Regions from separate parts of the Homo sapiens genome. Here all the other regions are linked to region 1. The links come from fine-mapping of genetic effects on gene expression. A gene starts in region 1. Each other region holds a variant in brackets. All regions are shown on one strand. Distances are between the middles of the regions.

Region 1 (5,658 bases):
AAAAGTACTCAGGCTTGGTGGTCAGCCGAGAGAGAGAGAGAGAAGGAAAGAAAGAGAGAGAGAAAGAAAGAAAAGAAAGAAAGAGGCCAGGCTCGGTGGCTCAGGCCTGTAATCCCAGCACTTTGCGAGGCTGAGGCGGGCGGATCACGAGGTCAGGAGTTCAAGACCAGCCTGGCCAATATGGTGAAACCCTGTCTCCACTAAAGAAAAATACAAAAATTAGCCAGGCATGATGGCGCGGGCCTGTAGTTCCAGTTACTCGGGAGGCTGAGGCAGAAGAATCGCTTGAACCTGGGAGGTGGAGGTTGCAGTGAGCCGAGATCGCGCCACTGCACTCCAGCCTGGGTGACAGAGCAAGACTGTCAAAAAAAAAAAGAAAGAAAGAAAATAACCAGAAAAAAAAAGTAAAAATATAGGACATTTTAGGTGAAGGTAAGCACTAGGAAAGAAAGAAAAAAAAAAGCAGGGAAGGGATGTTGGCCGGGGCGGGCGGAGGGGGGGATTTATACAGTTTGGCCAAGGAAGACATTATAATAATGCACTTATTCCTTAGTTTAGAACATGTAGCATTTCACCTGTACCGAGAGATGCCTGATATATTTCATACATGACCAAAATAATAATGTAAGAGGCAATAAAAAAGTGCAGGGTTTTAGGGTTCTAGATATCAGCACATTTTAAGATTAAATGCATGGTAAGAACTTTTGTACTATATACACCTAGTTTGAACTTAAATTTAATAACAAACTCTTTGGAGTCTCTCTCTCTCTCTTTTTTTTTTTTTCCCAAACATAGCTTCCCAAGGAGCAGAAGGGCTGAATTTTCTCTAGTTCCAGGAAGACCGCAAGGCTACTGTGCTCTGGATGTCTCGTTTTTATTTTTTTATTTTTTTATTCTCCAGATCTCAAGACGGTGTCTGGCACATACCATTCAATACAAGTTTGGTACCTGGAACCCACTGAATATGCATGTCCAGTAACTATTAACTACATGTGTTGGTGCAAGGGAGAAGGTCGAGCAACCGGATCTGCTCCATCATAGCCCGTCTCAGTCGCTTCATTCAAGTCAGCGGGGTGAGGTTGAGGGGATTCCAACTTCACAAGGGCAGATTTCTCATGGACTCTCTTTCTCTGGTTGTACTGGAACACTTTCTGGCGTTATTCCTCTGCTGGGACAGCATGAACTTATGAAACGTGGTCCTGTCTGCCCTAAAGCCAGGGTCTCACCGACAAGGACAGCGATGCTGGGGCGAGAAATAAAGTTCGTCCTGGGCCTGCGTACGGTACAGCGCCCTTGGGAAGCCCTTGTGGAGTTAAGGGTGATGCCCACTTCTTTGTCTCCCTCATTCTGTTTCGGTGGCTCTCTCGTTCCCAGTTCCAAGCTGCCCACTTGTTAGAGGAGCCACTGCTTACCAGGCATCTGGTTTAATAAAACATGGCTAGAGCGACTGCATGTTAAAGTGAGTAACTAGGCACTCACAAGGCACCTATAAGGTTAATGCTAAAGGTCTGAAAATAGCCGCATTCTAAGCTGACCAACAATTATAATTACACAATATTTATGGCCATACAGGACATCTCCCACCAAGTCTGCGGAATTGTCCAGATGTCCTGAGTTTTTTTTTTTTTTTTAGACAAGGTCTCACTTTGTCGCCCAGGCTAGGCTGGAGGGCAGTGTGGTGCGATCTCAGCTCACTGCAACCTCCGCCTCCCAGGTTCAAGTAGTTCTCCTGCCTCAGCCTCCTGAGTAGCTGGGACTACAGGCATGCACCACCACGCCTGGCTACTGGCTTTTTTTTTTTTTTTTTTTTTTTTAAATAGATGGCATCTCAGTATGTTGCCCAGGCTGGTCTCGAACTCCTGGGCTCAAGGGAGACTCCTGTCCGGCCTCCCACAGTGCTGGGATTACAGACGTGGCCACCGAGCCCGGCCCAGCCCTCTACTCAGAGATAACGTCAATGCGCAGGCTTAGGTTGAAGGATTAATGGTCATTAGTGCACCAACAGCCCCTACCTTTAGTGGGCACATCAGCACATTCCACGATTAATCACAGCTCCTCACAGCTGCCTCTAAGTAGTGACACTACCGAAGGACGGGAGTTCCTCCTCCTGCAGTCTGAGGACTTGCACTCTCTAACGGAGTAGATTCCAATAAACTTGCTTCCTTCACTGCGCTCTGTGACTCGCCTCCAATTCTTCCCTGAAGTAGACCCAAGAACCCTCTCTTGGGGTCTGGATCGAGACCCCTTTTTCCAGCAACACAACCCGCGGGGCCGCCTCCCGCCCACCCTCAGGTGCAGGAGACCCCGGGCCATGCATCCTTCCGGGCAGGAAAATGTCAGCCAGCGCTCGCCGGCCGCTTTCCTCCCCCGCCTCCCGAAGTTCTCGCCCGGTAGCTCCCCGACTGGCTCTCGCGCCGGACAAAGGCGCACGCTGATTGGCCGGAGGGCCGTAGTCATGCAGGACGCGCGACTCTAGGGGCGGGACCAGACAAGGGGTGACTGCCGCGCGGCGCGGGGGAGGAGACCTTCATCTGTTCACGCGGTAGCGCGGATTGCGGTTCGCGGCGCGCGCCACCGGGGAAGGAGCGGTGGGCCGAGGGGTTGGAGGTGGGGCCCCAGGAGGACCTCGGGCTGTGGGCCGGGAGAGCGGAGTCGGGGAGTGGGGCGGGGGAGCGAGGTGGCGCCGGGGAGCCTGGGATATGGCGCGGCCAGACGATGAGGAGGGGGCGGCGGTGGCGCCCGGACACCCGCTCGCGAAAGGATACCTCCCGTTGCCGAGGGGCGCGCCCGTTGGGAAGGAGAGCGTGGAGCTGCAGAACGGGCCCAAAGCGGGCACCTTCCCGGTGAATGGGGCCCCCCGGGACAGCCTCGCTGCCGCCTCGGGAGTTCTGGGCGGGCCTCAGACTCCACTGGCCCCAGAAGAGGAGACCCAGGCCCGGCTGCTGCCTGCGGGCGCGGGAGCTGAGACCCCGGGGGCCGAGAGCAGCCCGCTGCCCCTTACGGCGCTCTCCCCGCGGCGCTTCGTGGTGCTCCTGATCTTCAGCCTGTACTCGCTGGTCAACGCCTTTCAGTGGATCCAGTACAGCATCATTAGCAACGTCTTCGAGGGCTTCTACGGTGTCACCTTGCTGCACATCGACTGGCTGTCCATGGTGTACATGCTGGCCTACGTGCCCCTCATCTTCCCGGCCACCTGGCTGCTGGACACCAGAGGCCTGCGGCTCACCGCCCTGCTGGGCTCCGGCCTCAACTGCCTGGGTGCCTGGATCAAGTGCGGCAGTGTGCAGCAGCATCTCTTCTGGGTCACCATGTTGGGCCAGTGCTTGTGCTCGGTGGCCCAGGTGTTCATCCTGGGCTTGCCCTCCCGCATCGCCTCAGTGTGGTTTGGGCCCAAAGAGGTGTCCACAGCTTGTGCCACCGCCGTGCTGGGCAATCAGGTAAGTACTGGAGTGGTAGGTGAAAGTCAGATCCTTAAAAGACCGGAAAAAGTCATAGGCCGTGAGAACTATGGCCTGTATGGATGAACTGCCCCAGGAGGTATTTGTCTATAAAAGAGGAGATGAAGCCGTTGAATAGGAGGCCGTCTTGGATTGAAGTGGGCTATAAATTTCTTTGTAAGGACAAAATTTTCCAAACGACCTTGTCATCTTGCTTTGAAAATTACCTATAAAATAATTAACTGGGCCGGGCGCGGTGGCACACACCTGTAATCCCAGCACTTTGGGAGGCCGAGGTGGGTGGATCACTTCAAGTCAGGAGTTCCAGACCAGCCTGGGCAACATGGGGAAACCCCGTCTCTGTTAAAAATACAGAAATTAGCCAGGCCTGCTTGCGGGTATCTGTAGTCCCAGCAACTCAGGAGGCTGAGGCAGGAGAATCTCTTGAACCCGGGAGGTGGAGGTTGCAGTGAGCGGAGATTGCACCTTTGCACTCCAGCTTGGGTGACAGAGTGAGACTCTGTCTCAAATAATAATAATAAACTGTAACCATAATAATAATAATAATAATTAACTGTATTGGCTTGTGTATGCCTAACATGGAAAATTTGTCAATGCAGTAACGAACAAGACTTGGGGTATTATTTTTGTCACCAGTGTATTTGTGAAAGGAAGGTATTGGGTTCTGGGAAGATTGTTTCCATTTTGAGAGGTCATTGTGAACAGCTCCCTTTTAATTTCATATATTAGCAGTCAGCACAGTTCCTGGCACATAAGGGACACATAAATGACTGCTAACCAAAAGTTCTGGGCTGGGCGTGGTGGCTCACGCCTGTAATCTCAGCACTTTGGGAGGCTGAGGCAGGCGGATCACTTGAGGCCAGGAGTCTGAGACCAGCCTGGCCAACATGGCAAAACCAAATACACAAAAATTAGTGGGGCATGGTGTGGTGCATGCCTGTAATTCCAGCTACTCAGGTGGCCAAGGCATGAGAATCTACATGCTTATTGCTTTATAGTCATTTCCCTTATCTAAAAGTACAGAAGATGGAGTAGGTTGAACTATAGTTGTTTGTCCAAAATAATTTATGACTGATACTTGAGTTGGTTGCATCTGCAGGTTTGGACAGAAGCTATTATAAAGTTTTTTGTGTGTGTGGTTTTTTTTTTTTTTTTTTGTAGAAATGGGGTTTCTCCATGTTGCTCATGCTTGTCTCGAACTGCTGAGCTCAAGCTCTCTGCCCACCTCTGCCTCCCGAAGTGCTGGGATTACAGGTGTGAACCACCACGCCCGGCCATGATTACATTTTCTTTGTCACACATCTCTCAGTTTAAATTCATTTTTAAATATTCAGTAGCATTTCTTGATCCCATTTAGAGTTGCCCAGTCACTCTCTTTACATTATTTTACTTTAATTCTCCTTATAGCACTCATCCCTGTCTCATATGTTATTGTTTACATGTTCATATGTTACTTACCTATTACTTTTCTCTTATCCCCACCATTAGATTGTAAGTTTCATGAAAATAGGAATGTGGTCTGAATGTACACAGCTGTATCACCAGCATTTATTACTCTCCATAAAACCATGTTGAATAAATAAAGGAGCTTCAGACTCATACAGATACTGGCCAGCTGGATAGTCTACTTGGATATCTCATGGGAACACACCACTCAAAATTGCTTTCTCCTTGCTCATTTCCCTTTATCTCTAATGCCACTGTCTTGGTTTGGGCCACCCACAGCTCTCACCTAGAGCTTGCTAACTGTCCTCCCTATCTGTAGCCCTTGCTGTCTTCCCTCTGTTCTCGCATTCATCCAGCGTGGTCTTTTACAATGTGCAAATCTGTTCCGGGCACATCCTTACCCCCTGCAGTGGCTTCCATTGTCCTTAGGATAAAATTCAAACACTCTAGTGTGACATATGGGACCCTCCAGATCTGCCTCCTGCCAGCCCTTCCACTTTATCTGTATGCACAACCCCTGTCCCCACAGACATATGCTTTCTCTGCTCTGTGCAGAACTATGCCTACTTATAGTTTCTCACAAGGTCGTGCCCTTTCCCTCCTGGCCTTGTATGTAATGTCCTGTTGGCTTGGAATATTTCTTCACTTGACTAACTCCAATTTCTTATTCAGATCTTTGCTCCTCCAGGAACTTTTTCTGAACCCCATTTCTTTTCATTCTTTTTGATAGCTGAATAATATTTCTATATAAGGT
Region 2 (5,658 bases), 28 kb before region 1:
AAAACAGGCCGGATGAAGTGGCTCATGCCTGTAATCCCAGCACTTTGGGAGGCTGAGGAGGGCGGATTGCTTGAGGCCAGGAGTTCACGACCAGCAACATGGCGAAACCCCATCTCTACTAAAAATACAAAAATTAGCCAGGCATACACTTGTCATCCCAGCTACTCAGGAGGCTGAGGTGGGAGAATCATCTGAGACCGGGAAGTCCAGCTGCAGTGAGCCATGATCATGCCACTGCACTCAAGCCTGGGTGACAGAATGAGACCCTGTGTCAAAAAAAAAAAAGGCAGACTTTCACCATGTTGCACAGGGTGGAGGGCAGTGGCTATTCACAGCCATGATCCTGGCACACTACAGCCTTGAACTCCTGGACTCAAGTGATCTCTCACTCCAGCCTCCTGAGTAGCTGGGACTATAGGTATCTGCCACCACTGCCTGGCTAGGTATTTGCCTTTTGGGAAGTGAAAAATTAGCTGTAGTTCTGTGTCGTTTGTTTTTATTATTTTTAACATTTTCTCATGGTTGATGAGTCTTATCCACACTGTGCCCTACTATATAGTCCTGACTGACATAGGGTTTTAAGCCAGCTGGCTTATCCATATCCCTTCTAATATCAGAATGCTTTGGCTCTCTATGAATCTGAGCTTCCTGTGGAAGTAGAGGGCAACCAAATAAAAAGTGAATGTCTTATTGAAATAAATACAAATGCCAAGAAGCTCTGGGTTCCAGGCCAGGCAGTGCTCTGCTTGGCATATGGACTAGGTTCTTAACCACACAAAGGAACATAAGCCAAGTTAAGATCTGAAGAGGCTCATGCCTGTAATCCCAGCACTTTGTGGGGCTGAGGCGGGCAGATCACCTGAGGTCAGGAGTTCGAGACCAGCCTGGGCAACATGGTGAAACCCTGTCTCTACTAAAAATACAAAAATTAACCTGGCATAGTGGCACACACCTGTAGTCCCAGCTACTCAGGAGGCTGAGATGAGAATTGCTTGAACCTGGAAAGCAGATGTTGCAGTGAGCCAAATCACACTGCTGCACCCCAGCCTGGGCAACAGACCAAGACTCCGTCTAAAAAAAAAAAAGTGATTTGAAGAGACTGTGATCCAAGAAGCAATGAAACGGAGGTGATAGTAGCCAAATAGGATGTGGCCATGAGATAATTCTAACCATCACCACTGTGGGGATGGACAACGTAATGTAACAGAAAGCCCTGTCTACAGGCACCTTATATTAGCCTCTCAAATATCTCCTTATTCAAATAATCAAAACCATAACTTTAACAGAGGAAGTTAATCTATCATTTATAAGCAAGTGTTAACTTTTTAGCCTTCAACCTGATCAGTGGGGTTGGTCAATATATTCCATTGAGTTATAGAAACAAATATAAACTATTATTTAAACATTTTAGATTACTAAGGAGAAGATTGCCTGGGCATGGTGGCTCACACCTGTAATCCCAGCACTCTGGGATGCCAAGGCGAGTGGATCACCTGAGGTCAGGAGTTCAAGACCAGCCTGACCAACATGGTGAAATGTCATCTCTACTAAAAATACAAAAATTAGCTGGGTGTGGTGGCGTGCGCCTGTAGTCCCAGCTTCTCAGGAGGCTGAGACAGGAGAATAGCTTAAACCCAGGAGGTGGAGATTGCAGTGAGCTGAGATCATGCCACTGCATTCCAGCCCGGGGAACAGAGCAAGATTCTGTCTCAAAAAAAAAAAAAAAAAAAAGGGATCACTGTAAACTAAACTCTTAGGTATTCATGTTTGAAAGTAACTAAAAAACTCAAATCCTCTCTTCAAATCATCTAAGTTTAAATGATAGAATGGAATGAATAAAGATATGTTTTATGTGACTTAATGTTTTTTGAGGGATCTAGTGAATACTTTTGTTTAGCTTTGTTTATAATTAATAATTTGTAAATAATTTAGACACACTGAAGAAGAATCAAAGAGAATGTATTTCCGTGTGTCTCTGGAGATGCACTTTATCCAAATATGGCATTATCTGAAAAAATAAAAAATAAAAAGTATTTGTTATATAACTTATAACACATTTCATGGTTTTTAAAATAACCCTGGAGGGCAGAGTATTGTTTTTCAGATACAGGAACTAAGGTTTAGAAACACCAAATGGGCCGGGTGCGGTGGCTCACACCTGTAATCCCAGCACTTTGGGAAGCCGAGGTGGGCGGATCACGAGGTCAGGAGATCGAGACCATCCTGGCCAAGATGGTGAAACCCCATCTCTACTAAAAAAATACAAAAATTAGCCGGGCGTCGTGGCGCGCTCCTGTAGTCCCAGCTACTCAGGAGGCTGAGACAAGAGAATCGGTTGAACCCAGGAGGCGGAACGTGCAGTGAGCCGAGATCACACCACTGCACTCCAGCCTGGGCGAAAGAGCAAGACTCCGACTCCAAAAAAAAAAAAAGAAACACCAAATGGCGGCCAGGCGCTGTGGCTCACGCCTGTAATCCCAGCACTTTGAGAGACTGAGGTGGGCGGATCACGAGGTCAAGAGATGGAGACCATCCTGGCCAACATGTTGAAACCCCCATCTCTACTAAAAAGACAAAAATTAGCTGGGTGTGGTGGGATGCGCCTGTAGTCCTAGCTACTCAGGAGGCTGAGGCAGGAGAAATCAGTTGAACCCGGGAGGTGGAGGTTGCAGTGAGCCGAGATCGCAACACTGCATTCCAGCCTGGTGACAGAGCAAGAAAAAATCTCAAAAAAAATTAGCTGGGTGTGGTGGTGCACACCTGTAATCCCAGCTACTCT[G/A]GAGGCTGAGGCAGGAGAATCGCTTGAACCCCGGGCAGCAGAGGTTGCAGTGAGCCAAGATCGAGCCACTGCACTACAGCCTGTGACAAAGTGACAGAGTGAGACTCCGTCTCAATAAATTAAAAAAAAAAAAAGAAAGAAAGAAACACCAAATGGTTGGGCACGGTGGCTCACGCCTGTAATCCCAGCGCTTTGGGAGGCTGAGGCAGGCAGATTGCTTGAGGTCAAGAATTTGAGACCAACCTGGGCAACATGGCAAAATCCAGACTCTATTAAAAAAATACAAAAGTTAGCCAAGCATGGTGGCACATGCCTATAGTCCCAGCTACTCGGGAGGCTGAGAGGTAGGAGGATCGCTCGAGCCCAGGAGGTTGAGGATACAGTGAGCTATGATCACACCACTGCGCTCCAGCCCCAGTGACAGAGCAAGACTCTGCCTCTAAAAAAAAAAAAAAAAACCTCAAATTACTAAAAGCATGATACTAGTCAATGACAGAGGCAAAACTTGAACCCAGGTGTTTTTAATTCTATATATTTAAATAAACTGCCCCCCTTTTGGGCTCCACATCTCCAAGTGGAAGATTGAAAAGAGGGCCTGGAAATCTCGGACTAAGAGAACTTCTTTCCTAGTCTTCACGTCACTATTAATAGAAGCAAAGAGGATCACCCAGAACTCCAAATACTCTATGCAAAATCTGTAACATTACTTCCCCTCAACACACAGGCCTCCCCACCAGGTTAGACCACCGCTAGGTTCGACCATCAGGACTAATCTCATTCTGTCCCTTATCCCTGTTTACACTGGACTCCTCAAGGAACCCAGGAGTCCTGGGTCATCCCTCATGCCCTGGATAGTAATCCCCATATAGTTATATGGGCAGCAATACACCCTCCATCCAACACTTCCTATCCCCCACCCTGCTGTTTTCTGTTTCCCCATAGCTCTTACCCATTTATCACTATCTGATCGGACATTTACTTCCTTTTTTTTTTTTTTTTTTTTGAGACGGAGTTTCGCTCTTGTTGCCCAGGCTGTAGTGCAGTGGCGCGATCTCTGCTCACTGCAACCTCCTCCTCCCGGATTCCAGTGATTCTTCTGCCTCAGCCTCCAGAGTAGCTAGGATTACAGGCATGCACCACCATGCCCAGCTAATTTTTGTGGGGTTTCACCATGTTGGTCAGGCTGGTCTCGAACTCCTGACCTCAGGTGATCCACTCGCCTCGGCCTCCCAAAATGCTGGGATTACAGGCGTGAGCCACTGTGCCCGGCTGAAATGTACTATTTTTTAACTTGTTTATCTGGCTCTCTACCCAGTGAAATCTAAGCTTTTTTTTTTTTTTTTTTTTTTTTTTAGAAATAGAGAAGAGGTCTCTCTATGTTGCCCAGGCTACTCTCAAACTCCTGGGCTCAAGGGATCCTCCTGCCTCAGCCTACCAAAGTGCTAGGATTACAGGCATGAGCCAGCACACCAAAACCTAAGCTTTTTGAGGCAAGATTTTATTCATCACTGTATTGACAAGCACGTAGAAGAGTGCCTGACATCAAGTAAGCACTGATATATATTCGTTGAATGAATAAAGAGTAAATGAGTGTTTCTTCCTCTTGCACAGGTATGCAAAGGAAAGGAGTACAGTGCCTTCCAATTCGTATTGAATATGTCCAGCAAAATTACTGTATTATTACCCTCCTGCATTTCTAAAGATTATTCCACAGCAACCAACTAAGGTTGCTGTGAGAAACTCTTAGGTTTGTGAGCCATTGCCCAAGGACATAGCTATTGGTCTCGAGAGGAATGAGGTAAGTTCTACCACTACTTCTGGGAAAGTATATTCCATGTCCCAACATTTATTCAATCAGCCAGGAAACGTTTCCTGAGTTCCTAATTTGTGCCAGACACTGTTCTAGGGACTGAAGATAAAGTGGTGAAAAAAGCAGATACCATCCCTGCCTTCAAGGAGCCTAGCCTTCATTAGGGAGTGATAAACACTGTGGTAAAAAAGAAAGCTGGGTAAGGGATTATAGAGTGTTGAGGAGTGCTGCTTAGATAGGGTGGTTTCTTTTGTTTATTTTTAATTTCAGTAGTTTTTGGGGTAAAGGTAGGTTTTGGTTACATGGGTAAGTTCTTCAGCGGTGATTTCTGAGATTTTGGTGCACCCATCAACCGAGCATATAGTCTTTTATTCCTTGCCCCTCTTTTACCTTTCTTTCCCTTGGGGTTCCTAAAGTCCATTATATAATTCCTATGCCTTTGCATCCTCATAGCTTAGCTCCCACTTATAAGTGAGAACAGACAATATTTGGTTTTCCATTCCTGAGTCACTTCACTTAGAATAATGGCCTCCTGGCCGGGCTCAGTGGCTCAAGCCTATAATCCCAGCACTTTGGGAGGCCGAGATGGGTGGATCACTTGAAGCCAGGAGTTTGAAACCAGTCTGGCCAACATGACGAAACCCCATCTCTACTAAAATACAAAAAAAAAAAAAAAAAAAAATTAGCCAGGCGTGGTGGCAGGCAATCCCAGCTACTTGGGAGGCTGAAGCACTTGAACCTGGGGGCAGAGGTTGCAGTGAGCTGAGATCACGTCATTGCACTTCAGCCTGGGTGACAGAGAGACTCAGCTTTCACAGAATTGAAGAGAGTTGGGGCCTTGCTCTGGGTTAGGCTTTGACTTAAGGAAATGTTGTGGCTGGGTTCATCTGTCCAGATCACTGAAACTTTCTCCCTATCAGCAATAAGGCTGTTTTGCTTTCTTATCATTTGTGTGTTCACTAAAGGGAATTTTAAATTTCCTTCAAGGGTTTTTCCTTTGCATTGATAATTTGGATAAATGACTGGCACAAGAGGCCTGGCTTTTGGCCTATCTTGGCTTTTGCCATGC
Region 3 (5,658 bases), 46 kb after region 1:
AGGAAAGATTAACTTTCCCAGACAAATAAAAACTGAGGGAGTTAAATCACCACCAGACCTACCTTGCGAGAAATGCTAAGTGGAGTTCTTCAAGCTGAAACAAAAGTATGCTAATTTTAATGCTAATATGAAAACATAAAAAGGTATAAAACTCACTGGTAAAGATACGTATATAGTCAAAATCAGAATATTCTAATACTGCAGTGGTTATGTGTAAATCATTTTAACTCGTGTATAGGCTAAAATAAAAATATTAAAAATAACTAGCTTTGGTAATTCATTAATTGATACACAATATAAAAGGATGAATATTGTGACAGCAAAAGCATAAAATGGCGTATAAAAGTGTAGAGTTTTTGTGTGTGAACAAAGTTAAGTTGCTATCAGCTTAAAATAGACAATAAGATGTTTTATGTAAGCCTGTTTTAACCACAAAGCAGAAACCCGTAGTAGACACACACAGATAAAGAGAAAGGGATCTAAGTATACTACTAAGGAAAATCATCTAATCACAAAAGACAGCAAGAGAGGAAGAAAAGGACAAAGGATCTTTAAAACCGCCAGAAAACAACAAAATGCCTGTAAGTTCTTACCTGTCAATAATTACTTTAAATGTAAATGGGTTAAATTATCCAATCATAGACATAGATTGGCTAAATGGATTTAAAAACCAAACTGTATGCTGCTTACCAGAGTCACTTTAGCTTTAAAGATATACATAGGCCGTAAAGGGATGGAAAGAGAGAATCCATACAAATGGAAACAGAAATAGAGCAGGGTAGCTTTATTTATTTATTTATTTTTGAGACAGAGTCTCACTCCACCCAGGCTGGAGTGTAGTGGCATGATCTCAGCTCACTGCAACCTCCACCTCCTGGGTTCTTGTGATTCTCATGCTTCATCCTCCCAAGTAGTGGGGATTACAGGTGTGCACCACCACACCCATCTAATTTTTGTATTTTTAGGAAATGGAGTTTCACTGTGTTGGCCAGGCTGGTCCTGAATGCCTGACCTCAGGTGATCTGCCTGCCTTGGCCTCCCAAATGTTGGGATTACAGTTGTGAGCCACTGCACCTGGCCAGGGTAGCTATATTTAAATCAGACAAAATGGACTTTAAGTAAAAACTTTGGCCAGGCATGGTGGCTCACGCCTGTAATCCCAGCACTTTGGGAGGCCAAGGCAGGTGGGTTACCTGAGGTCAGGAGTTCGAGACCAGCCTGACCAATATGGTGAAACCCCATCTCTACTAAAAATACAAAAATTAGCTGGGCGTGGTGGCAGACGCCTGTAATCCCAGTTACTCAGGAGGCTGAGGCAGGAGAATCGCTTGAGCCTGGGAAACAGAGGTTGCAGTGAGCTGAGATCGTGCAACTGCACTCCAGCCTGGCCAACAGAGTGAGACTCTTGTCAAAAAACAAACAAAAAAAACACCTAAAAAACTTTAACAAGGGACAAAGAAGACTATTATATAATGATAATGGAGTCAATTTTTTTTTTTTTTTTTTTTGAGACAGAGTCTCGCTCTGTCGCCAGGCTGGAGTGCAGTGGTGTGATCTCGGCTCACTGCAACCTCCGCCTCCCAGGTTCAAGCAATTCCCCCTGCCTCAGCCTCCCAAGTAGCCAGTACTATAGGCCTGCACCACCATGGCCAGCTAATTTTTTGTATTTTAGTAGAGACGGGGTTTCACCACATTGGCCAGGATGGTCTCGATCTCCTGACCTCATGATCCGCCCACCTTGGCCTCCCAAAGTGCTGGGATTACAGACATGAGCCACTGTGCCTGGCCTTAATGGGGTCAATTATTTAAGAGGATCCAACAAGTTGTGTGTGCATGTGTGTGTGTGTGCCAACAGTGGACTACCTAAAATTATGCAAAGCAAATATTAACAGATCTGAAAGGAGAAATAGCAGTAGAATTAATAGGGGATTTCAGTACCCCACTTGCAACAATTGATAGAACATCCAGCCAAAATCAATAAGGAAACATTGGATTTGAATTACACCTTAGACCACATGGACTTAATGGACATATATTGAATATTCCATCCAATAGCAACAGAGTACACATTTTCCTCAAGTACACATGGAACATTCTCCAGGATGGGTCATATGTTAGGCCCAAAAGAATGTCTTTAAAATACATTTAAATAAGAAATACAATTGAAATAATCATATATTCCTTAAGACATAATATCATATTAAGCAACTTCTCTGATGCTTACAATGATAGGAAATTACACAATTACATATTATTTCACAATGATATGAAATTACCCACCAATAGAAAGAAAACTGGAAAATTCAAAAATATGTAGAAATTAAACAACAGATTCTGAACAACTAGTGAGTCGAAGAAATCAAACAGGAAATCAAAAAATATTTTGGGACAAATGAAAATAGAAATACTTTCTATTTCCATTACCATATCAAAACTGATGGAATGCAGCAAAAACAGTTCAAGGAGGGAAATTATAACAATAAATGGCCACATGAAGAAATATCTTAAATAAATCACCTAACTTTACACCTGAAGGAACTAGACAAAGAAGAACAAATTAAGCCCAAAATTAGTAGAAGGAAGTAAATGACAAAGATGAGAACAGAAATAAATGAAATATAGACTAGAAAAATAATAGAAAAGATCAGTGAAACTAGGAGTTGTATTTTTTGAAAAGAAAAACAAAATTGATGAACCTTAGAGTAAGAAAAAGAGAAGTCTCAAATGAAATTGTAAATGAAAGAGGAGATATTACAACTGATACCACAGAAATACAAAGAATCATGAGACTATTATGAACAATTGTACTTCAACAAACTGGATAACCTAGAAATTGATAAATTTCTATAAACATACAACCTACCAAGACTGAGTCATGAAGAGATAGAAAATCTGAGTATACCAATAACAAGTAAGTAGATTGTATCAGTAATCAAAAATTGTCCGTAGAAGAAAAACCAAAGTCCCAGTGGCTTCACTGGTGAATTCTACCACACATTCAAAGAAAATAATACTAGTCCTTCTTAAAGTGTTCCATAAAATTTCAGAGGACGAACACTTCCAAACTAATTGTCAGCATTACCCTGATACCAAAACCAGTCAAGGACATTATAGAAAATAAAATTACAGGCCAGTATCCCTGATCCTCCACAAAATACTAGCAAACCAAATTTAACAACACATTAAAAGGATCATACACTATGATCAAATGGGATTTATCCC[A/T]GGGATATAAGGATGGTTCAACATATACAATTCAATAAATGTGATATACTATAAGGGTAAAAATTATATAGTCACCTCAATAGATGCAGAAAAAGTATTTGACAAAATTCAACACCCTTTCATGATAAAACCTCAAAAAAAAAAAAAGACATAGAAGGAGCTTAACCTCAACACAATAAAGATCATTTATGAAAAGCCCACAGCTAACATTATACTCAATGGTGAAAAAGCTGAAATCTCTTCCTCTAAGATCCAGAACAAGGCAAGGAGGTCCACTCTTACCACTTCTATTTAGTAGGACTGGAAGTTCTAACATGAGTAATTAGATAAGAAAAAGAAATAAAAGGCATCCAGACCTGAAAGGAAGAATTAAAATTGTGTGCAGATAACATGATCTTATGTATAAAAATCTCTAGAGATTCTATGAAAAAACATTTAAAAATAAATTCAGGAAAGTTGCTGGATACAAAATCAACATATGAAAACAGTTGCATTTCTATATACTAATGAACTATCTGAAAAACTAAGCAAAAAATTTCATTTACAATAAGATCAAAAAGAATAAAGTACTCAGAAATAAGTTTAATCAAGGAGGTGAAAAATCTGTACAATGAAAACTATAATGCATTGATGCAAGAAATTGAAGACAAATTAATGGGAAGATATCCCAAGTACATGGATCAGAAGAATCAATATTGTCAAAATGTCCAACTACCCAAAGCAACCTTAAGATTAAACACAATTTCTCTCAAAATTCCAATCGCATTTTTCATAAAAATAGAACAATCTTAAAATTTGTGTGGAACCTCAAGAGAACTTGAATAGCTAAAGCAAACTTGAGAAAGATCAAAGTTGTATCACACTTCCTGATTTCAAATTATATTACAAAGTTACTGTAATCAAAACGGCATGATACTCTCATAAAAACAAACTAGGCCAATGGAACAGAAAGCCCAGAAATAAACTCATACATACACTGTCAATTAATCTGTGACAAGAATACACAATGTGGAAGGGATAGTCTTCAATAGATACTGTTGGGAAACCTGGATAACCACATGCAAAAAAAAAAAAAAAATGAAATTGGATTCTTATCTTACATCATACACAAACATCAACTCAAATGGATTAAAGACAGGGCAGGTGTGGTGGCTCATGCCTGTAATCCCAGCACTTTGGGAGGCCGTGGTGGAAGGATCACTTGAGTTAGGAGTTTGAGGACAGCTTGGGCAACATAGTAAGACCTCGCCTCTACCAAAAAAAATTTAAAAATTAGCCAGGTATGGTGGCACACGCCTGTGGTCTCAGCTACTCAGGAAAGCTGAGTTGGAAGAATCTCATGAGCCCAGGAGGTTGAAGCTGCAGTAAGCCGAGATTGCACCACTGCACTCCAGCCTGAGTGACAGAATGAGACCTTATCTCAATAACAACAACAACAACAACAAAGACTTAAATATAAGACCTGAAATCATAAAATGTAAGGAGGAAACATAGGCATTGATGAGCAATGATTTTTTTTTAATATGACACCAAAAACAGAGACAGCAAAAGCAAACATAAACAAGTGGGACTAAACTTTTAGCGTAGAACAGCAATTTTGCCCGCCACCACTTTTGCACCATCATTGCAAATGTCAACATAGTGAAAAAGGTATATAACTTCTTTGTATTATTATGAAAAGAGTTTGGACATTATGGATTCCCTGAAAAGGGTCTTGCTTCTAGAAAGGAGAAACTGGCTATCACTACATTGATCAATGATTCACAATGCCAGAATATGGAGAGAATAAAGAGTAAGGGAGGATCAAGGATCAAAGGCCTCTAATTAAAGGAGGTAGGTGGAACATAAAGAGTTAGTGGAGACAAAGAAGGAGCCTAAGGGAAAGACAGGCAGAAGATTTAGGGTGGTTTTATTAATGAGACCAAAGAGAAGAGAATTGGTAGCTGCAAAGCAAGATACTACCTCTGTGTAAACGAAGAGTTATAAAAAGCTGCTACTACCATCTGTTGTCATGCCATTTAAATTATAATTAGTATGATATTTCAGGATAAAGTTTCCAGCATTATTTAGTTTTACAAACAGCTAAATATTTGAGGCAAAAGCCATGAAACTGTTTAAAATATAAAATAATAACATGGCATTTTATCTGTTACCGGCTACCCTATAAGAAATAGGAACTTTAAAATCTAAGACCTTTCTCAGATCCCATTCAGAATCACTAAAATTTACATTTAGATTTTCAGTGGGAAAAACTACTTCCATCCAGAAAAAAAGATACTCTTTATTTTCAATAGCAGGCGAAGAAATCTAGGTAAGTAACACATTTCTGAAGTCACCTCTTTCCTGTAAGCCACCTGTTAGTGTCAGCTTCTTGTCCTCACCACACTGCCCCTCACTTTCTGCAGGAAGAGTTGGTCAAACTAATAGGTGACATCC
Region 4 (5,658 bases), 140 kb before region 1:
TTCCACTACTCTACTTTGTTATAAAGTTTTTTAAATTTTGTTTTTATTTAATAAGAAATATATGTGAAGGAAGCAAGTACAGAAAAACATTTTTTAAAAGAAATATATGAATGCATTCCCAGAATAAAATGGAATTTAACCATTACAGATAAATTGAAAGTGATCAGCACTTTTTTTTTCTTTCCTGAGATGGAGCCTCCTTCTGTTGCCCAGGCTGGAGTGTAGTGGTATAATCTCAGCTCACTGCAACCTCTGCCTCCCGGGTTCAAGCGATTCTTGTGCCTCAGACTCCTGAGTAGCTGGGACTACAGGCGCCCGCCACCACACCTGGCTAAATTTTTGTATTTTTAGTAGATACAGGGTTTCACCATGTTGGCCAGGCTGGTCTCGAACTCCTAGTCTCAAGGGATCCGCCTGCCTCGGCCTCCCAAAGTGCTGGGATTACAGGGGTGAGCCATCGTGCCCAGCTATGATCATCACTTTCAATTCTGGTCATTAATTTTGTGTGTATCCTTCCAGATTTTATAATATGTATATACATACTCCTCATTTACAAATCTGTCTCCTCCTCCTAGATTACAAACCATATGAGGACAAAGGCAATGTCTTCATTATGCTGGCCCCTCCCAACTCAGTGCTAGCTGTAGTAATAACCAGCACTAGAAATGATGCATTGAAGCGCAGACAATTGAAGAAACTTGCCCACGTTACCCAGAGAAGTGACTGGGCTGGGATTCAAACTCAGGCAGAGCATGCACTTAATACAATTTTAATTGGTCAATAATGAATAAATAGTCATGTTGCAGCAAGTGACATTTGGATTAGATAGAAGAGTTACCCCAAAAAGAGGTCCAGCACATACTATCAAAGTACACATGAGAATGTTTAATGACTTCTACGTGCATCATGGTGGCATACTTCATTCAAAAATTAAGAAAGTATTATTACCATTATTTTTGAGACAGAGTCTTGCTCTGTTGCCCAGGCTAGAGTGCAGTGGTGGGATCTTTGCTCACTGCAGCCTCCGCCTCCCAGGTTCAATCGATTCTTGTACCTCAGCCTCGTGAGTAGCTGGGATTACAGGGGTGCGCCACCACTCCCGGCTAATTTTTGTATTTTTGGTAGAGACGGGGTTTTGCCATGTTGGCCAGGCTGGTCTCTAACTCCTGGCCTCAAGAGATCCACCCACCTTGGCCTCCCAAAGTGCTGAGATTACAGGCGTGAGCCACCACAACCAACAATAACTTATTTTTTCTTATTTTCCCCAATTTTGTTTCTAAGGGAGAGGCGCCTAGCAAAAATGTGTTTTTGCTAAAATCATGTAATGCTGGTTTCTACTGAAGCCCTAAATGATGCCACACCATAGGAATTCTAGTAGTGTAGTATCTGAAGAGATTGCTCATTATCCTGTTTTAAACCATGAATAAGATATGTGCCATTTGTGACGTACTTAAAAAAATAATTTCACTCATTTCCTGTAGGACCTACTACCACCTACAACTGATTTGCATTTTCTTGGATCCATTTCCAACTTCTTGTGCCTGGCACAGAGCTGTGCTCACAATCCTGGTCACACATCTGCTGAATGAATAAACCACAAATGACTTCTACTGACAGCAGTGGATTTCCTTAGAAAGACACTAACAACTTTGGTAGTTCCCCTAACACTCAAAGTGGATGCCTGGGGCTGTTTCAAGAAATCTCTTTTCTTTCTTAACAATAGCCCATGCTCTTTGATAGTTTAGGGCAGAAAGAGCCTTAGGCCAGTGGTTCACGCTTGTAATCCCAGCACTTTTAGGGGCTCAGGCAGGAGGATTGCTTGAGCCCAGTGGTTTGTGATCAGCCGTGCAACATGGTGAGACCCCATCTCTATGAAAAATGGCACACACCTGTAATCTCAGCTACTTGGGAGGCTGAGGCAGGAGATTGCTTGAGCCCAGGAGTTGGAGGAAATGATCATGCCACTGCACTCCAGCCTGGGCAACAGAGACTGTCTCAGGAAAAAAAAAAAAATTAGCATCTCAGTCTTCTTTTCAAAAAAGCAGAGCCAGTTTGTTATTTCCCTCCAATAGACCTCACGTAGGCAAAATTGGATTAACCTTTATCCTTGGTTCCTGCTACTCTGACATTGTTGTTTCATGAATATACTTCTTGTGTTTATTTATTACTCATTTGTTTGTTAATAATATAACAGACATCTCTAAACTCATCACCTAATCCAAGAACCAGAACACTGACAATCCCTTTTATTTACCTCTGTTCTCTTCACTATTCCAGCCCCTTTCTCCCCCATCTGTCTATCCTAAATTTTGTGTTTATAGTTTTGTCACATTTTAAAAATTAAACTTTTTTATTTTGACATATTTGTAGACTCTCTTGCAGTGAAATCCCATGTGCCCTATACTCAGTTTCCCCCAATGGTAAAATCTTGCAAACCTATGTTCTGTATGATAT[G/C]ACAATCAGAAAGGATATTTACATTGATACAGCCAAGACACAAAACGTTTCCATCACCACGAGGATCTCTCCTGTTGCCCTTTCTTAGTCGCAACCACTTCTTGCTCATGCTTTGCCCACCCGCTCCTTTACCCCTGGTGACCACAAATCTGTTCTCCATTTCTGTAATTTGGTCATTTCAAGAACATTATATAAATGTAATCCTACAGCACATAACCTTTTGAGATTGGCTTTTCTTCACAATTCTCTGAGGATTTCATGGAAGTTGTTGCCTGTATCAATAGTTTGCTCCTTTTTTGTTGCTGAGTAGTATTCCATATACGGCAGGGATGTACCACAGTGTGTTTAACCTTGTCAAGGACATCTGGGCTGTTTTCTAGTTCTTGGCTATTACAAATAAAACTGCTATAAACATTTGTGTATCTGGGCATGGTGGCTCATGCTTGTAAGTGCCAGCACTCTGGGAGGCCAAGGCAGGAAGATTTCATCAGCTCAGGAGCTCTAGACCAGCCTGGGCAATATAGTGAGACCTTGTCTCTAATAAATAAATAGATAAATTAGCCACGCACGGTGGTGCATGTCTGTAGACCCAGCTACTCAGGAGGCTGAGGCAGAAGGATTGCTTGATCCTAGGAGGTGGAGGTTTCAGTGAGCCATGATCATACCACTGCACTTCAGCCTGGGCAACACGGTGAGACTCTGTCTCAAAAAAAAATTGGGTACAGAGTTTTGTGTAAACATAAGTCTTCATTTCTTTGGGATAAATGCCCAAGAGTGCAATTGCTGGGACACTTGGTAGTTGAACATTTAGTTTTCTAAGAAACTGCCAATGTGTTTTCCAGAGTGGAGGTATATTTTTAATTCCCACCAGCAATATGTGAGTGATACAATTTCCCTGCATGCTCTCCAGCATTTGATATTGTCATGATTTTTTATTTTATTCATTCTGATAGGTGTGTAATGATATCTTATTATGGTTCTAAATTGCATTTTCCTATTGACTATTAATGTTGAACATCTTTTCAGGTGTTTATTTGTCATCCATATATGCCGTTTCATGAAATGTTTATGTCTTTTGTGCATTTTATAATTATGTTGCTTGCTGTTTTGCAGTTCAGAGTTCTGAGAGGCTTTTTTGTTTTTTTTCAAAGTCTCATTCTTTTGCCCAGGCTGGATTGCAGTGGTGCAATCACGGCTTGCTGTAGCCTCAATCTCCTGGGCTTATGTGATCCTCCCACCTCGGCTTCCCAAGTAGCAAGGACTATAGCTGTGTGCCACCACTCCTGGCTAATTTTGTTTTGTTTTGTTTTGTTTTTTACTTTTTGTAGAGATACAGTCTCTTTATGTTGCCCAGTCTTGAACTCCTGGGTTCAAATAATCCTCCTGCCTTGGCCTCCCAAAGTGTTGGGATTACAGGCATGAGCCACCATGCCTAGCCAAGAGTTATTTATATATTCAAGATACTAATCTTTTGTCAGATACACGGTTTGCAAATATTTTCTCCCACTTTATAGCTTGTCTTTTCATCCTTTTAACAACATCTTTCAAAAGGCAAAATCTTTAATTTTAACGAATCCAATTTATCCATTTTTAAAAATGAATGATGCTTTTGGTGTCAAGTTTAAGAACTCTTTGCTTAGCCCTAGATCCTGAAGATTTTCTCCTAGTTTTTCTAAATGCTTCAGTTATATATTTGATATTTAAGTGTGTGACCCATGTTAATTTTTCCATAAAGCGTGAGACTTAGGTGGATGTTCCTTACTTTTTTTTTTTTTTTTTTTTTGAGACAGGGTCTCACTCTGTTGCCCAGGCTGGAGTGCAGTGGTCCGATTTAGGCTCAAACTGCAACCTCCGCCTCTCGGGTTCAAGCAATTCTCATGCCTCAGCCTCCCACATAGCTGGGATTACAGGCATGCACCACCACACATGGCTAATTTTTGTTTTTTTAGTAGAGACGGGGTTTTGCCATTTTGGCCAGGCTGGTCTTGAACTCCTAGCCTCAAGGGATCTACTGCCTCAGTCTCCCAAGGTGCTGGGATTACAGGCATGAGCCACCAAACCTGGCTGGTTGTTTGTTTCTTTTACCCATGGATGCTCAATTGTTCCAGTACCATTTGTTGAAAAGACTTATCTTTCCTCCTTGAATTGCTTTTGCACCATTGACAGAACTCAGCTGGCCATATTTGTGTGAGTCTACTTCTGGGTTCTCTATTCTGTGTGGTCTTGATCTGTGTGTCTACCTCTCTGCCAATATCCCACAGTCTTCACTATAGCTATATAATAAGTCTTGAAATTGGATAGACTGAGTCTCTCTACTTTCTTCTTTTTCAAGATTGGTTTAGCTATTCTAATTCCTTTGCCTTTCCATATACATTTTAAAATAATCTTGTGTATATGTATTTTGGGATTTTACTTACTTACTGGGATTTTGATAGAAATTACATTAAATATGTGTATAAATCTGGAGCGAATTGGCCAGATTGAGTCTTCCATCCATGGACATGTTGTGTCTCTTCTTTATTTATATGTTTGACATCCTTCATCAATGTTTTGTAGCTTTCAGCAAATAAGTCCTATACATGTTTTGTTAGGTTTACACTCAACCACTTTTTGTTGAGTGATTGCAAATGGTATTGTATTTTTATTTATGTGTCCACATGTTCATTGCTAGTATAGAGAGATACAACTGATTTTTGTAGGTGTATCTTATATCCTGTGACCTTGCTAAACTCATTTGTAAGTTCTAGGAGTTTTTGGTGCATTCCTTGGGATTTTCTGTGTAGACAATCATGTCATCTGCAAATAGGACAGTTTCATTTCTTCCTTTCTGATCTATACAGTTTTTCTTTTATTTTCTTTCCTTATTTCACCAACTAGAATTTCCAGCACTATGTTGAATAAACTTCTGAGAGTGGACATTTTTGCCTCGTTCCAGATCTTAGAGGAGAAAGCATTCCATCTGTTATCATTAAGTATAATAATACTAGCTGTGGGGTTTTTGTAGCTGTCCTTTATCAAATTGAGGAAGTTCCCCTCCATTCCTACTTTTTCTGGGAATTTTTATCATGAATCATTGTTGATTTTGTTTTCAAATGCTTTTTCTGTATCAATTGATATGATCATGTGATTTTTCCTCTCTAGACTATTAATATGGTAGATTACATTGATTTTCAAAAATTTAACCAGACTTCCATTCCTGGAATA

Which allele goes with the higher level. Positions count from the first base shown, and alleles are read on the strand shown. Sizes are in standard deviations (SD) of each study's normalised expression. Not every link is listed here.
In carriers of allele T in region 3, the expression in putamen of the gene that starts at base 2,522 in region 1 tends to be higher than with A alone (moderate effect, 0.61 SD a copy in GTEx).

What was found. PIP is the estimated chance that this variant, and not a neighbour inherited with it, causes the effect.
Region 2: its variant is fine-mapped to the expression of FLVCR1 in whole blood (INTERVAL, PIP above 0.99).
Region 3: its variant is fine-mapped to the expression of FLVCR1 in putamen (GTEx, PIP above 0.99). The same link has a PIP of 0.9 or more in caudate, cerebral cortex, nucleus accumbens and subcutaneous fat.
Region 4: its variant is fine-mapped to the expression of FLVCR1 in whole blood (TOPMed, PIP above 0.99).

What each region holds. Positions count from the first base shown.
Region 1 is chr1:212,855,754-212,861,411 of GRCh38, forward strand. FLVCR1 (FLVCR choline and heme transporter 1) reads left to right here and starts at 2,522. Exons shown (of 10, transcript NM_014053.4): 1 at 2,522-3,437. The coding sequence starts at 2,700. It overlaps FLVCR1-DT (FLVCR1 divergent transcript), which reads right to left and starts at 2,385. Exons shown (of 2, transcript NR_027286.1): 1 at 2,013-2,385; 2 at 851-1,165. RefSeq lists silencers at 2,623-2,682, 2,763-2,972.
Region 2 is chr1:212,828,254-212,833,911 of GRCh38, forward strand. It overlaps SPATA45 (spermatogenesis associated 45), which reads right to left. Exons shown (of 3, transcript NM_001024601.3): 3 at 1,888-2,008. The coding sequence ends at 1,989. Among named protein-coding and RNA genes, the nearest start is that of SPATA45, 17 kb to the right of the region's middle. The variant G/A (reference allele first, on the strand shown) is at 2,780.
Region 3 is chr1:212,901,617-212,907,274 of GRCh38, forward strand. No RefSeq gene overlaps it. Among named protein-coding and RNA genes, the nearest start is that of VASH2, 46 kb to the right of the region's middle. The variant A/T (reference allele first, on the strand shown) is at 3,223.
Region 4 is chr1:212,711,147-212,716,804 of GRCh38, forward strand. No RefSeq gene overlaps it. Among named protein-coding and RNA genes, the nearest start is that of BATF3, 14 kb to the left of the region's middle. RefSeq lists an enhancer at 1,399-1,952. The variant G/C (reference allele first, on the strand shown) is at 2,455.